Regions from separate parts of the Homo sapiens genome. Here region 2 is linked to region 1. Evidence: fine-mapped expression QTL. A gene starts in region 1. The other region holds a variant in brackets. All regions are shown on one strand. Distances are between the middles of the regions.

Region 1 (8,342 bases):
CATAAATGGCACACCTGCTCCAACCAACCCTCTGAGCCCTATGTAAATCAGACACTGCCTCCTCAAGCTCCTCTATAAAACCAACCACAACTCGCCCCAAACCCGGAAACCTGCTCAGGCACCTTTCCAATGCATGAGGAAACTCTCTCTTCATTCTTTTGCCTATTAAACTTTTGCTCTTGAACCCACTCCTTTGGTGTCCACATCTCAATTTCCATACTGTGAGACAGCAAACCTCTGGCATTTCCCCAGACAAACGATGCCGCTTCACTGCCATCTCAAGCCCAAGTGCCAAAAATGACCACTTTAGTCTGAAGAATGCCACAGCTGCCACCATGCTGCTTAGGATAAGCAAGGACATGAAGATGGAGTGGGGACGGGTTTATTAGAGAGGCCGCAATAAAAGCATATCCCAGGCAACTTTCCACTTCTTAACTTCTGTCATTTTCAAACTTAAAGGTGTTTTTTATTGTTGTTGGTTTGCTTTTCTTTTTAACAGTTTCTATTTCTGGCCAAAAGACTGCTTTTTGTTTTCCTGCTATGACATATTTATTCTTTGTTCAAAAGTCTTTTCCATGATTTCATATAGGAACTAAGAAGACAGCCATGTGTTTGCTCAACACATTGATCCCCTCTCCACCTAGAACTCTCTTTACTGTTTCTCCCAGGAAGATTCCACCCCTCCTGTTCTGCCAGTTTCCTCATATTTGCCTCATACAATTGCCCTTGTAGGCAGATGAACCCGGGCTAGTTCTACTTTACTATGGACACCAAAGCTTCTGAAATAACATCTGAGTCTTGGGATTTGCATATGAATCTTCCCTTGACACAGCAAACAGTCTTTCCTTTTACCTTCACTAAAGTCATCTACTTGGGAGAATGGAGAGCACTAAAATTCTACAGATTTCAAAAACAAACCTGCTGTGCCTTTCCAGAGTCCTTGGAATGCAAAAGAGAAAATAGGTTAGAAGGGATATTTTCTCCTTCCTTTCTTACCTTGAAGGAGCTCCTATTTTTAAAGGGAATCATTGGGGACAATCCAAAAGAAACTCTTGCAAATCAAGCTTTGCCATGCCATCACGAGAAGGGTAACATGTGTGCCCAGTGGTGAAATTTTTAAATTTTGGTAATGATCTCCAGGGTCACCCCTATGGATAACAAAAATATTTTAAAAACCTATAATGGTGCCAGCCTTTCAGAACCCTGTCTCTTTGCAAGGACCTACCAAGGTCTAGAGATCATAGCACCTCACTAGCAGCCTACAGGCATTCTCCAAAGGTTCCCACCTGCCCCACCCAACATACACACACACATACACACACACACACCCTCCTGCTATCCTTTGGCCCTAGATTTCACCTAACTTTATTCTAAATCTTAATCACCCTGTGCCCCCAAACTCATGTGTTATAGGGCCTTGGTAATCCCTTTCTAAGCATATTCCCTGACTTCTTAAATTCTATTTATGAGACATATATCTAAAGTAAAACTATATTTCAGGCCAGATCAGCACGCTTCTTATTACAATTATAAACACTGAACTTCTTAGTTGCTGGGAAAATATATTGAAAAGGCATTATTATGCTTGTATAGCCATAGATTATCTAGGGAAAAGTATTGAGTGTCTCGAGAATGAGTGAAAATTGTTTCCCCAATATACACCTTTTTTTCTTTTGAAAAGTATATCCTGCGTATATTCAAAAGATAATGTTTTTCAAAAGGGGAAATTGCCTCCACTGTGGACTCTTATTAATTCACTTATCCATCAAGTTCTCTTATTAACTCACTTATACATCATATTCCCTTATTAACTTTTTATTCAATCACTGGTATTTGTTTCTAGTGCTCATAATTGAACACAAATTTGTTTACTATTATATAAAATAAAGTAACAGCTATTCACCGTTTCCTCCTTTACCTCAATAAGTTGACATCTTCCAATAGATTTATTTCCCTGTTTTGCTCCCTCCTCAGATCCAGATGAGTGTGCTAAGTGATACAAAATGCTTTTATTCCTCTACCGTTCAACCCCCTGAGCCCGATGTTTTAGTTCCACGTGTTTTAGTTCCAGGTGTCACAGAATTTCCCTTGCAGTGTGTCTCATCAATTTAAAGAATCCTTCTTTAAAACTTTTCTTACACATTCCCAGAGAGCCTATCATTGTCCATTTAGAGTTAACTCTCTACATAAAATTTGTCAATTTTTTTTTACTCACCACTGTTTCCTCTCCTTATTTTCTGCTCCTATCTGAAATCTCTTTTCCTATTTGATTAAATTGCTTCTTCAGTATTTCCTGCATGTACATATGCTACCGATATAATATCTGAAGACTCTCAAATCCACAAATATCTTTCTTTGACCCTCACAAGAATATAATTTCTGCAGCCTTATACATTGACAAATGTTTGTCTTTTACCCTCAAGTGACTGATTCCCTATGACATCACATTTTAGGATGACCAAATATAATTTTCCACTTTATACATAAGGAAACTGAGGTACAAAGAAACAAGGTAGCCTTGAACTTTCATTCAAGGTCACAAAGCTAGCAAAAAGTGGATGACTAGCGATGAGGTCTTCAGGTTGAGATTAACAAACAACATCACAGGATATAATAGGATTTAACCCAACTTCAACTTCATAAAATGAATGGACATTCCCTGATCTTCCCTCCACTCCCACCCCCACCTCAGGGGATTTCAGGATGCACTGGGCAAAACTGTCTCCCTCCATCCCCAACCGTTTCTCAGGCAGTGACAGGTGTCAAGAACTCCTCGCCGCCCTTCTTGAAGCTTACATTCTGGAGCAGGGAGGCAGAAGCTAAACCAAAAATTAAAACAACTGTGAACATATTCCCTATAAACTCAGATGTAGTATATGAAAACAACACATGATTTGACGACAGAAGATGATGGAGGGAGAAAGAACAACAAATAAATAGGAAAAGAGGCCTCAGATAGGAGCAGGTAAAAAGGAGAGAAAACAGGAAGGGGTCAGGACTGGTTTCCCTCAAAGCCTGTCATTTGACAGAGAGCTGCAGAAAGAAGGAATAGAGCCAAGCACATAACAGGAGGGTAGAGTTGCAGTCTGAAGCACCCAAAATGGTCCACTAGGATGGACAAAGGACATACTTGAACCACCACTTAGATTCATCTTCATCTAAAAAATAAGAAATTAAGTGTGTGTAATATTTAATTATTTAGTACATTAATTACAGTAGAATATATAGAGTTGATGCTCAATTTGTTAAAAAATAGATATCTAAAATTAAACCTCAGAGATTACTCTTGCCTATGACAACGAGCTTCTGAAAGGCAAGGATAGGTCTCACCCATCTCTGTATCTTCAGAATCCATCATATTATGTGGAACATAATAGGTATCAATAGTATGTTGGGGAAAAAAATCGAAACCATGCTGAGCACCGGAATTCTGTGTAAATCTTTTTAAAAAGTCTCTTCTACTTTACATCAGAGTCCCTTTTGTATTTTTAGTATCATCCAGCCCCACGCCTTGCAGATAAGCCCCTAAGAAATGAATGGGTGAATGAATGTGTGGACAGCGGGATGGATCATTGAGTGAGGAGCAGTGATTCGCAGGACCTGCATGCATTGAAATCCTGCCAAAGCAGCCTCTGCAAAATAAAAGACCTTGGGCTTTGGTTTCTGACACAAGTTAAAATTATCCAAGGACTCTCCTTGGGCCACTTAGTTGAGGTTTCCTAATCTGTGAAACAGAAAATGAATTCAATAGAAAGATGATTGAGACAAATTTCTGGAAGGTGCCAAAGCAGGATGCCTGGCATTGAGGGACGCTTCACACCTGTTATCTCTCTCCCTATTCTCTCTTCACCCCTACTCCCGCCCGGCAACTCCCCGCTGTCAGCTCCAGGAATACTTACCTGCTGAGAAAAGGAAAAGCACAACACTGACTTTACCCCGCGACGCTTTTAAAAACTCCAAAACACCCAGCGCGATGGGGAGTAGGTTTCCCTAAAGACAGGTGGAGCAGCCATAGTTAACTTAGAGGAAGGTGAATTGACAAAGAGGGTTGAGCCACTACGAGCGGGAGTTACCTTGGACTAACAGTTGTATCTTCAGCGAGCACAAGTCCTGGAATCTCCCACGCCCATCCCTTTTTTTAGCGCCACAAATGCAGCCTCCTAAGAGAATGGGAAGCTTGGGAGTCAGAGAACAGAAGATTGAGCTACCATTGGCCTTAATGGATGTCAATCTTCACTTGTCTCTTTTTTTTCCTTCCTCGCCTCCTTGCCCCTCCCTATCCCGGTAGGCGCGTTCTCTGGCGCCATCATATGGCAGAATGCGGGACTACACCAAATGCGGAAAGGCACCTTCCCCTTCCCTGAGTATCTGCAAACTCAGGGCTGGGCTTGGTTTTTAAGAGCTCAGCTCCTGTGCCAGGGGCGGTGCTAAAAGGGGCTGCCTGCGCAGATGTCATTCCCACAAGATGCAAGTAAAGAAGCACCGCGGACACCGGGGGAGGGTCACAGAGTGACAGGAGGACTGGTTGACCAGCTGACTGGCCTCACTTCTGACAAATGCAAATTACCCAGCCACAGTCCAACCAAGGGTATCAAAACAGGATCTCTGCAGATGGAGCTCAGTGTTATGTGTTTTGGATGCTCGCAATAAGATTTTCATGCACCATAAACTTTCCTGAGTATCTCAACCAGTTTTGTTGATGCCGGGGTTTGTTCAAAGCTGCAGATTACTGGGCCTCACCCCAGACCTACTCTACTTAAATATAGTGGGGTTCCCATAATCCCCATTTTAAAAAACCTATCCAAGTTAAAGTACAGAGAATCACAAACTGGAAGAACTCCTTAATTTACAAATAAGAAATGGAGACCCCCCCACCAAGAGAGAAAGGAATTTGCCCAAGGTCTCCCTGAAAGAGCCTAAGAAAGCGTGAGGCTCTAAGGTTAAAATCCTACCTGACACCCTTTCCTTTCCCCAACTAGTCCTGTGACCTCTAGCAAACTATCCTGTCCTAATCTGTGAAATGGGAGCAACAGTCACACCTACCCCAACTGGTGACTGCAAATATTAAATGGGGCCACAATGAGTCAACTACCAAGCACCACCCCATTGTAAGTTGAGGTTGAAATGATTCTAGATCGCCCTACCCCCATTCATCTCCCAGTACCATTGTATGACCGTGGAGGTGAAACCATCCAGCCGCCTGTTGGTCCCAAACCATGTTCACCTCCACCCGTGGCTCAGTGACTATTTCTTTTCTTGAAGAGAGAGAGAGGCTCCTTGGAGCCTCTGGAATCTGGAGGGGGATGTTACCTTCCCCCTGTGTGCATTGTCTTCCCAAGATAGGATGGACTACGGGGTCTCCATGTGAAGAGTTAGCTGCCAGGGCATCAAGGATGGCTCCTAAGTGGTTGCTGGAGGCTTAGAGACCCCACTCCAGCTCTCTCTCAAATGGGGGCAGCTTGTTTGCAGCAGTGAGTGAGGTGGGCCCACTACGAACCCACAGGAGGAGAGGAAAAGACCGTCCCATCTAAGCTTTTACATAACCCATTGCAAGCTCCAGAATGTGGTGCCCAGGCCCATATCTATAACCCACCCCCAGAGGCCAGTTCTCCTCAGCCTTTCCTGCCACTTCTGCCATTGTACATCCAGACACTTCCCCTGTTCTCTTCTATCAAACTCCTACTCATCTCTCAGCCATCTAGTCCAAATATTAATCTTTCTCTGTGATATACTCTCAGGGTAGAGGCAGTGGTGCCTTCCTCTGTATTCCCAGAACATGTTGTCTGCAACTCTAAATACAGACATCATCCTACTATTAGGGTTCAAGAGCATCTTTTATGGGTTCATGAAGGAATCACTCTTCGTAAACACTGGCCTTATTCCCTAACTTCACCAGACCTGACCTTAGTGCATGATCCATTCCCACCTCTCCCAACCACATGAGAGGCCTTTTCCTCTTTATGGGTTTGCAAACCACAATATGACCTAACCACCAGTTACTGGCCAAAAGCATTCTTGTCACGTTTATTATAAAATCCAGCCAACAAGATGCTTTGTGCCAAGGGAATGTTCCTTTTCAGGGCAAACACTCTGTCCCCAGGGATGTTAGACAACTTCCATAGCCCCGTATAAGCATTAGCTAGAAATGAGTTTTTCCTAGTGGCCCAACAGATTCCCTGAGCATCCCTACTCTTTCACGGATTCCCATTGCAGTGGGATTGCATCAAACCTCTCAGGGCAAAGCTGCAAAGGGAAAAGCAAAGCTAGAGCTCTACTCTGGACCTATCGCTCTAGACAGTTAGTTTCTCTGTGAGGGTCAGTTTTATACGTAAGGAAGAAATGGAAGATTGCTCCCCAAAACGGCATCAGGTTACTTATCCCAATTGTGTGGTTCAGTTGCTACGCCAGTGATGAGCAAATAAACAGGAAGTAGAAGCACAACTATTCCTAAGCTCAAGAAGCAGGGAAGCTCAGGAATTGGTGTGCAGCAGTGCTGCTTGGAGCGCCATTACGAAGGAACAAGCACGGTCCACTGGGAGGTAAAATTCAGGGAATCGAAGACACAGGGGGTATGGGAAACAAGGCAGGCTTTTTTATTTATCATTTGCCATGATATCTCTCTGTGAACTTTCTTCTCCCTTTTAATTTTCCCTGTACTTTAATTATAATTCTTAGGCCTGACGTGGTGGCTTACATCTCTAATCGCAGTACTTTGAGACGCTGAGGCAGGCAAAGCAACTGAGGCCAGGAGTTCGACCCAGCTTGGCCAACATGGTGAAACCCCATCTCTATTAGAAAAACAAAACTCAGTTGGGCATGGTGGCAAGCACCTGTCATCCCAGCTGCTCAGGAGGCTGAGGTATGAGAATGGTTTGAACACAGGAGGTGGAGGTTGCAGTGAATCGACATCATGCCACTGCACTAAAGCCTGAGCAATAGAGCAAGACTCTGTGTCCAAAAAAAAAAAAAAAAATACAAAACTTCTCAGCTAATGGCCAACATTGAAATACAAAACTTCTCAGCTAATGGCCAACATTGTTACCATCATAAGTCCCAGCTTCCCTGTCTTCCTGTCATCATGTGTTGAATGTCCACTTCCCTCCTTATTTTTCAGTTGGAGTGGATTAGCATCACCAATTCAACATGTCACAAGTAGAATTACACAAACACACATAAGCACCGCAATCCTGGCACACACAGCATCTCTGTCCTCAGACTTCCCCATCCTTCTAGTTGCTCAAGTCAAAAGCCCAGGAATCATCATTGAGCCCTCTGTTTCTCTTATTTATGGACCATCCATAAGCAAATTCCATGGGCTGGCCCTTCAAAATAAATGTGGAATCCAGCCATTTCTAACACTTCCACCATTACCATCTGAGGTCGGGCTCCAACATCTTTGCAATCCTGGGATAGACTCTTAGCTGCCTTCTCCCTTCCACATCTCTTCTTGTCCTCCCAGAGTTTGTACCGCGCACAAACGCTGCTAGGGTGGTTTTAAAAAATATGTCAGGGTATATTTCTCCCTTACTTCAAATCCTCCATTTAAAATAAATTTCACATTTATAGCCAAATCCAGACTTCTTCATATGGCCCACCAGGGGCTTTATGCTAATGGAATGTGCAGATGCTCCTCCCTGAGGAGCACCTTTTACCAGGGCAAATTTTCTATCTCCAATGATGTCAGGCAATTCCGACAACACCATTCTCTACTACCTCTTGGTTTTCATAGATATTTTTCCTCCAGATTCTACAAAAAAAGAAGATCAAGTCTCCTTGTGCAATGATTTACTCTCTGATGTATATTGGTGCCAGGCACGTGTACTGCTTTCAGATGATTCAAGAATAACAGCGATTTGAGAAAGCTGTCCTTAAGTTTTCTCTTCTCCTTGACTGTATGACATTATTTTTACAATTATACTTCCAAAGTTTGCTCTTTCCAAACACCACAAGACCTATGTAATTTAAGCAGTGATTTTAGGGGTCTCTGTATATTTTATATTAATTTCAGAAACATGCTCATGATTATTCCACCAAAACTATCAACTGTTACATAAACATCTGTCCTTCTATGAGTTGCAAAATAATTGTCACCATCCCCACTTAATCAACCATCTTGTATCCTTCTTTGACCAACTTCTGAAAAATAACACCCAATACTAAAGGCATCTCCTTCTATTCAGGGTCTCAGACAGTAAGACGTTCTTTCCTTAAACAGTAAGACGTTTTCTCAAGTCCCATGGAAAGCACTTCTTTGATATCAGTTTGGGGAGGCCGAACTCTGGAGTCTTCATCCGAAGAGTAAAGTACCGCACTCAGTAATGCGCGTCCTGGGAACCAAGCCT
Region 2 (8,342 bases), 46 kb before region 1:
ATGTTTTTGTCACCAGAAATATGCTGTAGGAACTTAACTCTTCTTTATATTAATTAGCTTATGGTAAAAATAATTTTGATATGTGTTGTTTCATTTGATGTTGCAGTTTCCAAGAACCTATTGACAATGTTAAGTAAGGACTAATTGTATACAGGAGTACACAGGGTTAGAAAAAAGGAGCATAGAGTTGGCAAGTTATTTTTGAATGTCTATTTCCTGGAAGAGGTAAAATTTCTTCCTATTCCCAAAATCACTTTTTAGAAGTGAGTGGGTGAGGGAGTATGCCAAGAAAGTGTTCAGAAAAAGAAGTAGGATGTTAGGGGAAATGGTTAGGGTATAAATGGCTTTTGATGTTAATGGGAGAAACAGTGGACTAGAATTAGCAAGGACTGGCAAGCATGCTTAGGATCATGTAAAGAGGGACACCATCACTGGAAGTGTTACTCAACAGTATATTAAGCTCAGCACCCTAAAAGTAGAAGCACAGAAGACAAATTAAAACAAACCAAGATTGGCTTTTTCAGGGCTGGATAACAAAAAAGATAAGGGACAAAGCATTTGAGAACATAGTAATGAGGGATTGAAACTCACATCTAAGATAGAGAAGAAAAAAGTAAAGTAGGTTGGAGACCAATAAAGTGAGAAAATATAGAAAAAGCAAGGGACGAAAGTACTTGATGAAGTCAAAGAATAGCAATGTTAATAGACAGGGGAAAATGTACTTACAAATAGGAGACTGGAGTCAGATATTAGGCTATTAGAGGTTGAGATTTCAGAGGTATTCAGAAGTAGATCAGTTTGGCATGTATGACTGTTGGCATCAACTCCAAGTCAATAGAGTAGGAGCCAAGAAGGGAATGGGAGCTTCAGGTATCACAGACATGAACAGGATGTAGCAGAAGTTGGCTGAAGAGAAAAATTAGGATGTCAGGTGCCAAATATTTCAACGAATGCAGAGAAATTTGGCAGAGGGCAACAGAAAAGCATTGTTTTATTCCAGCCACATGACACAGAAGGAAGAAGGAAGATTTTTCTATGCAAATAAGTAATACTCTAGAAGCAGGATTGGAGGCAAGGAGAATACTGATTTTTTTTCTTTTTGGTAACTATATTACCCTGGAGATCTAGAGGTTGTTAGAGAAATGTTTAAGCATATTGATAATTTATAATTCAAGGAAAGCATTTGGACATTTTACAAATTCAAAAGGCTACACACTGGCTTTTTCTAAAGTATTTTCCAGCTTCAGGTACCTAAAAGGTTTTGAAGAATTTGTTCTCAACATTGAGACCCTGGTGAGTGCTCATTCCAAGGGTTTTCAGGGGAAAAGAAATAAATTAACAAATACAAATGATTGAGAACAAGAATCCTAATTAATTGAAATGCCAAGAAAAAAAGGCTGTTCTAAACAATTCTGCTTACCTGAAGTTTCTTTGCAGAGCTGTAGGCACACTGCCTGCTGCACTTGCTCAGAATGGCAATGGAAAGGTTTCTGTAGCTAACACTCTATGGACTCAGACACACTAAAATTCAATTGACTCACGCTGTCACTGTTTAGCATAAAGCTTCAGGAAGTTATGGGTTCCTGTAGATTAAACCAGATGTTCTGTCCGTAGACAGGAAGTCAGAGGCTTTGTGGACCAGAGGAGGACTGAGACCATGTTCTGTATTGAGCAGCCTCTACAATTATAAGAAGTTTTACACAAGAAGCTTTTGATTTATACATAACTTGTTATAGCTGAAAGAGTATTCTAGAACAATATTAAGTCAATTTTCTAGAGTTGGCAAAAATAGCACAGCTGCAGCCTTATTTAAAACAAGTTAGCAGAGCAAACAAAGAGTTGGAAAGTTTGGTTTCAAGGCAAAATACCTGGCCTAATACTTTCAACCATTTGTGGGTTGGAAAAAGACAAGAATGCCTCAAGAAAGTTACTGTAATAATGAGAACTGGGTTTCATATACCTTGTCCTCTGGTTGTCTAAAGTGGAGCAAGAGGGAAGGGTATTGTAAGTATAAGAAGAAAAAGCAATTAGTGGAGAAAAGTTTCAGGGGGACTGGAATTAGCTTTGTAGAGGAATAGAGACAAACATTGTTTTCAATGTGTGTTCCTCACACCATCTACTTCAAGATCAATTGGGCTTGCTTGTTAACAATACAAGAACTTTTCCAGATCAGGTAAATCAGAGGCTCCCAAAGTGCCTGGCAATCTGTATCTTATAAAAAGCTATCTAAAAGAGTCTGATCTATATTATATTTTGAAAACATTGAGATTAAAAAATGGGAAAATATGTTATAAAATTTTTATCCTGGGTGCAGTGGCTTACACCGGTAATACCAGCTACTTGGGAGTCTGAGGCAGAAGGATTGCTTGAGGGCAGAAATTTGATATGAGCCTGGGCAACCTAATAAAACTCATCTTTAAATTTTTGGTTTTTAATTAGCCACATATAGGGGCATGTGTCTATAGTACCAACTACTCAGGAGACTGAGATGAAAAGATTGCTTGAGCCCAGAAATTTGAGATCGCAGTGAGGTATTTCACCACTGCACTTCAGCCTGGGCAACAGGGTGAGATACTCTCTCTAATTAAAAAGAAAAAAAAGTCTTTACCCACTTTCTGGAAGTGAAAGCAACTTCAAATTGTAATCATTTATGACATGAGAAAAACAAGAGTTATTTTTACACAAATAAGGAAGCTGTTGCTGACAAAAAAGTAAATGTCTTCCCTCAAGTCACAAAACTAACCATTGGCAATGTCTGGAATATGAGGCCGAATATCGAATTCTTTTAATGACACCATGATTCCATAGACAGTGATTCCCTACCCTTAGGCAGTTTATAACTTCTTACAAACCTAAATCATCTACTCCAGACGACATATTAAAAATTATCAATTAGGATTTTCTACTATCTGCACATGCTTGCTGTGTAAGGCATTGAATTTTATACTTTTAGTTACTCTACTTTTTGAACCAAAAGTTGTTCACATAATCAAAGAATTTTTACATATTTATAATTGTAAATGATTAATTTGTTAAATCTATATGAAAGTTTATAGAGTTTACAGTAAACTAATCATCCTTTTAAAAAAATGGTCCATTTAAACTACTCAATACGTATTTTTTATTCCATAATTGACAGCACACTGTGGATAGCTGAGAGACCACATATTTTATTTCTATACTGAGTATTACTTAAGTAATTTCTTAAGCTATTAAATATTTTTTAAATAGTTTATAATGGGGAGGAGAAGCAAAGCAAATGGCAGAATAGAAGGCTCCACTAATCATTTCCCCATACCCCACAAGGCCCCAAGTTAACAACTACACAGAAAAAATACCTTCATGAGAACCAAAAATCAAGTGAGCACTCATAGTACCCGGTTTGGACTTCATATCCCTAAAAGAGGCACTGAAGAGATGGAAAAAAACAGTCCTGAATCACCAACCCCCCTCCCTCCCAACCTCAGTAGCAGTCATGTGGTGCACAGTCTATCTCTGGGCACGGGGGGGAAGGAAGAACACAGCAATTATGAGGCACTGAACTCATTGTTGTTATGTTAGACACAAAGGAAAACTAGATCAA[A/T]CTCAGCTGACACCTGCCCCTGGAGGCAGAGGGAGCATTTAAGCCAGTCCTAACCTGAGAGGAATCAGCAATCCCAGCAGTAAGAACTTCAGTGCCTGAAAACCTCACCACAGGGGGCCTACAGTTCTCTGTGTTTCCAAGTAAACTTGAAAGGCAGTCTAAGCCATAAGGACTGCAACTCTTAGGTGAGTCCAGTGCTGAATAAGTCCCAGAAATTGTGGACTAGGGGGATATTTGACATACTGAGACACCAGCTGGGTCAGCCAAAGGAGTGCTGTTATCACCCCTCCCCCAACTCCAGGTTGCATATCTCGCAGCTCCCAAAGAGACTCCTTCCTTCTGCTGGAGGAATGGAAAGAAACAGTAAGGAAGACTTTGTCTTTGCATATCAGCTGAGCCACAAGAGGATAAGGCACCAAACAGAGTTGTGAGGCCCCCGTTCCAGGCCACTGCTCCTAGACAACATTTCTAGACATAGGCTGGGCCAGAAGGGAAACCTCTGCATTGAAGGAAAGAATTCATTCCTCAGAGCATTCACCACCTGTTAATTGAAGATACCTTGAGCCCTGAATAACCTAAGCAATACCCAGGTACTATTAATACACTGAGGGCTTTGGATGAGCATCTGAGACTAGCAGGTTTCAGGTGAGACTCAGCACATTTCAGCTGAGGCAGCTATGAGGCAAGATTCTTTCTTCTTCAGAAAAATGGAAGGAGAGTAAAGAGACTTTGTTTTGCACCTTAGGTGCCAGCACAGCCACAGCATGGTAGAGCAGCAAGTGGGCTCTTGGCATACCCAATTGCAGGACTTAGCTCTTGAACAGCATTTCTGGACCTACCATGGGCCACAAGGGAGCCCACTGCCCTGAAGGGTGAGTCCCAGGCAAGGCAGCCTTTACTACAAGCTGATTTAAGAGCCCTTTGGCTTTAAGAGAACACTGGTTGGTAGTCTAGCAACCAGTGGGTAGGGGTCACTATGGGGTGTGGCTCCTCTGCCTTTGGAAAGAGAAGAGAAAAGTGGGAAGGACTTCATCTTGTGGTTTGAACGTCAGCTCGACTGCAATATAATAGAACACCAGGTACTCGTCTAATGTTTTTGACTCTAGTCCCTGACTTCTGGACAGCACCTCTGTATCCACCCAGGGCCTGGGGGATCTCACTGCCCTGATGGGAAGGACACAGGCCTGGCCGGCTTTGCTGCCTGCTGATTGCAGATCTCCAGGGCCTTGAGCAAACATAGGCAGTAGCCAAGAAGTGATTACAGCAGGCATTGGGCAAGATGCAGTGCTCTGTGGGCCTCAGGCCTGATGTAGTGCAGTCATAATGGTGGTGGCCACAGAAGTGCTTATGTCACTCCACCCCCAGTTTTAGGTGGCACAGACAAGAGAGAGAAATTTTTTTTTTTTTTTCAAGAAATTAAGGGAAGAAAACAGAGCAGTCTCTGCCTGGCAATCCAGAGAATTCTCCTGAATCATGTCCAAGGCCATTGAGGCAGTACTTTTATGAGTCTTCAAAAACCACAGTATTACTGGGCTTGGGATGCTCCCTAAAGTAGAGAGTTTAAATCACGATACCTATGTCCTTTCAAATATCTGCAGAGCGTTCCCAAAAAGGATGGCTACAAATAAGCCCAGACAGTGAAGACTACAACAAACACCTAACTCTTCAGTGCTCAGACACCGAAGAACATCTACTAGCATCAACACCATTGAGAAAAACATGACCTCAGCGAATGAACTAAATAAGTCACCAGGGACCAATCCTGAAGAAATGGGGATATGTGACCTTTCAGAAAGAGAGTTCAAAATAGCTGCAATGAGGAAACTTAAAGAAACTTTGATAACACAGAGATAACACAGAGAAGGAATTCAGAATTATATCAGATAAATTTAACAAAGAGATTGAAATAGTTAAAAAGAATCAGAAATTCTGCAGCTGAAAAATGCAATTGTCATAATGAAGAATGCATCAGAGTCCTTTAATAGCAGAATTGACCAAGCAGAAAAAAGAATTAGTCAGCCTGAAGACAGGCTATTTAAAAAGACACTGTCAAAAGATACAAAAGAAAAATAATAAAAACAACAAAGCGCATCTACCGAATATAGAAAATAGCCTTGAAAGGGCAAATCTAAGAATTGTTGGCCTTAAAGAGAAGGTAGGGAAAGAGACAGGGGTAGAAAATTTATTTAAAGGAATAGTAAGAGAGAACTTCCCCATACCAGAGAATGATGTCAGTATCTGAGTACAGGAAAGTTGTAGAACACCAAGCAGATTTAACCCAAAGAGTATCTCAAGGCATTTAAAATCAAACTACCAAAGGTCAAGGAGAAAGAAATGTAAAAGCAGCAAGAGAAAAGAAATAAATAACATACAATGAAGATCCAATACATCTGACAGCAGATTCTTTCAGTGAAAACCTCGCAGACAGTGGCATGACATATTTAAAGTACTGAAGGAGAAAAACCTTTTACAGTAGAATATTATATCTGGCAAAAATATTCTTCAAACATGAAGGAAGAATACTTTCCCTGACAAGAGCTGAGGGATTTCATTAATATTAGACCTGTCTCACAAGAAATTGTATATAAAGAGAAGAACATTAGAAAGAACAGAACATTCAGTAAGAAAAGAACATTAGTGAGCAATAAATAATCATCAGATGTTTAAAAACACACTGATAATAATCAGTACGCAGAAAAAGACAGAATATTATAACACTGTAGCTCTGGTGTATAAACTACTTTTACCCTAAGTAGTAACACCAAATGATGAACCAATCAAAAATAATAACTACAACAACTTTTCAAGAAACAGTACAGTAAGATATAAATAGAAATAACAAAAAGTTAAAAAGTGGGAAGACAAAATTAAAGCATTGGGTTTTTATCAGTATACTTTGTGCTTGTTTGTTTATGCAAATAGTTTTGTTATCAGATTTAAATAATGGGTTATAAGATGGTATTTGCAAACGTCATGGTAACCTCAAACCCAAAAACATACAATGGACACACAAAAAATTAAAAGAAAGAAACAAAATTTTATCACCAGAGAAAATCACTTTCGCTAAAGGAAGGCCGGAAGGAGAAAAACAAGGTAGAGGAGTTCACAACCAGCAAACAAATACCAAAATGGCAGGACTAAGTCCTTACTTATTAATAATAACATTGAAGGTAAATGGACTAAACTCTCCAATCAAAAGACATAGAGTGGCTGAATGGATTTAAAAACAAGACCCATTGCTCTATTGCCTATAAGAAACACACTTCACCTATACAGATCCACATAGACTGAAAATAAAGGGAAGGAGAAAGTTATTTTGTGACAATAGAAACTAAGAAGAGTAGGAGTCACTATACTTTTGTAAGAAAAATTGATTTCACAGGTCTGGCAGCCAAGATGGCCAAATAGGAACAGCTCTGGTCTACAGCTTCCAGTGTGAGCGATGCAGAAGACAGGTGATTTCTGCATTTCCATCTGAGGTACAGTGTTCATCTCACTGGGGAGTGCCAGACAGTGGGTGCAGGACAGTGGATGCAGCGCACCATGCACGAGCCGAAGCAGGGCGAGGCATTGCCTCACTCAGGAAGAGCAAGGGGTCAGGGAGTTCCCTTTCCCAGTCAAAGAAAGGGGTGACAGATGGCACCTGGAAAATTGGGTGACTCCCACCCTAATACGGCACTTTTCCAACAGGCTTAAAAAACGGTGCACCAGGAGATTATATCCCGCACGTGGCTCAGAGGGTCCTACACCCATGGAGACTCACTGATTGCTAGCACAGCAGTCTGAGATCAAACTGCAAGGCGGCAGCAAGGCTGGGGGAGGGGCACCCACCATTGCCCAGGCTCGCTTAGGTAAACAAAGCAGCTGTGAATCTCGAACTGGGTGGAGCCCACCACAGCTCAAGGAGGCTTGCCTGCCTCTGTAGGCTCCACCTCTGGGGGCAGGGCACAGACAAACAAAAAGACAGCAGTAACCTCTGCAGACTTAAATGTCCCTGTCTGACAGATTTGAAGAGAGCAGTGGTTCTCCCAGCATGCAGCTGGAGATCTGAGAATAGGCAGACTGCCTCCTCAAGTGGGTCCCTGACCCCTGACCCCCGAGCAGCCTAACTGGAAGGCACCCCCCAGTAGGGGCAGACTGACATCTCACACGGCTGGGTACTCCTCTGAGACAAAACTTCCAGAGGAACGATCAGACAGCAGCATTCACGGTTCACGAAAATCCACTGTTCTGCAGCCACCGCTGCTGATACCCAGGCAAACAGGGTCTGGAGTGGACCTCTAGCAAACTCCAACAGACCTGCAGCTGAGGGTCCTGTCTGTTAGAAGGAAAACTAACAAACAGAAAGGACATCCACACCAAAAACCCATCTGTACATCACCATCATCAAAGACCAAAAGTAGATAAAACCACAAAGATGAGGAAAAAAGAGCAGAAAAACTGGAAACTCGAAAAAGCGGAGCACCTCTCCTCCTCCAAAGGAACACAGTTCCTCACAGCAACAGAACAAAGCTGGATGGAGAATGACTTTGACAAGTTGAGAGAAGAAGGCTTCAGATGATCAAACTACTCCGAGATACAGGAGGAAATTCAAACCAAAGGCAAAGAAGTTAAAAACTTTGAAAAAAATTTAGACGAATGTATAACTAGAATAACCAATACAGAGAAGTGCTTAAAGGAGCTGATGGAGCTAAAAGCCAAGGCTTGAGAACTACATGAAGAATGCAGAAGACTCAGGAGCTGATGTGATCAACTGGAA

Evidence for each region.
Region 2: its variant is fine-mapped to the expression of GLYATL1-AS1 in whole blood (INTERVAL, PIP above 0.99).

The regions. Positions count from the first base shown.
Region 1 is chr11:59,054,299-59,062,640 of GRCh38, forward strand. GLYATL1-AS1 (GLYATL1 antisense RNA 1) reads right to left here and starts at 4,154. Exons shown (of 6, transcript NR_033853.2): 1 at 4,074-4,154. RefSeq lists enhancers at 3,989-4,058, 4,229-4,488.
Region 2 is chr11:59,008,273-59,016,614 of GRCh38, forward strand. The region is part of intron 3 of GLYATL1-AS1 (GLYATL1 antisense RNA 1); the gene reads right to left. Among named protein-coding and RNA genes, the nearest start is that of GLYATL1-AS1, 46 kb to the right of the region's middle. The variant A/T (reference allele first, on the strand shown) is at 3,584.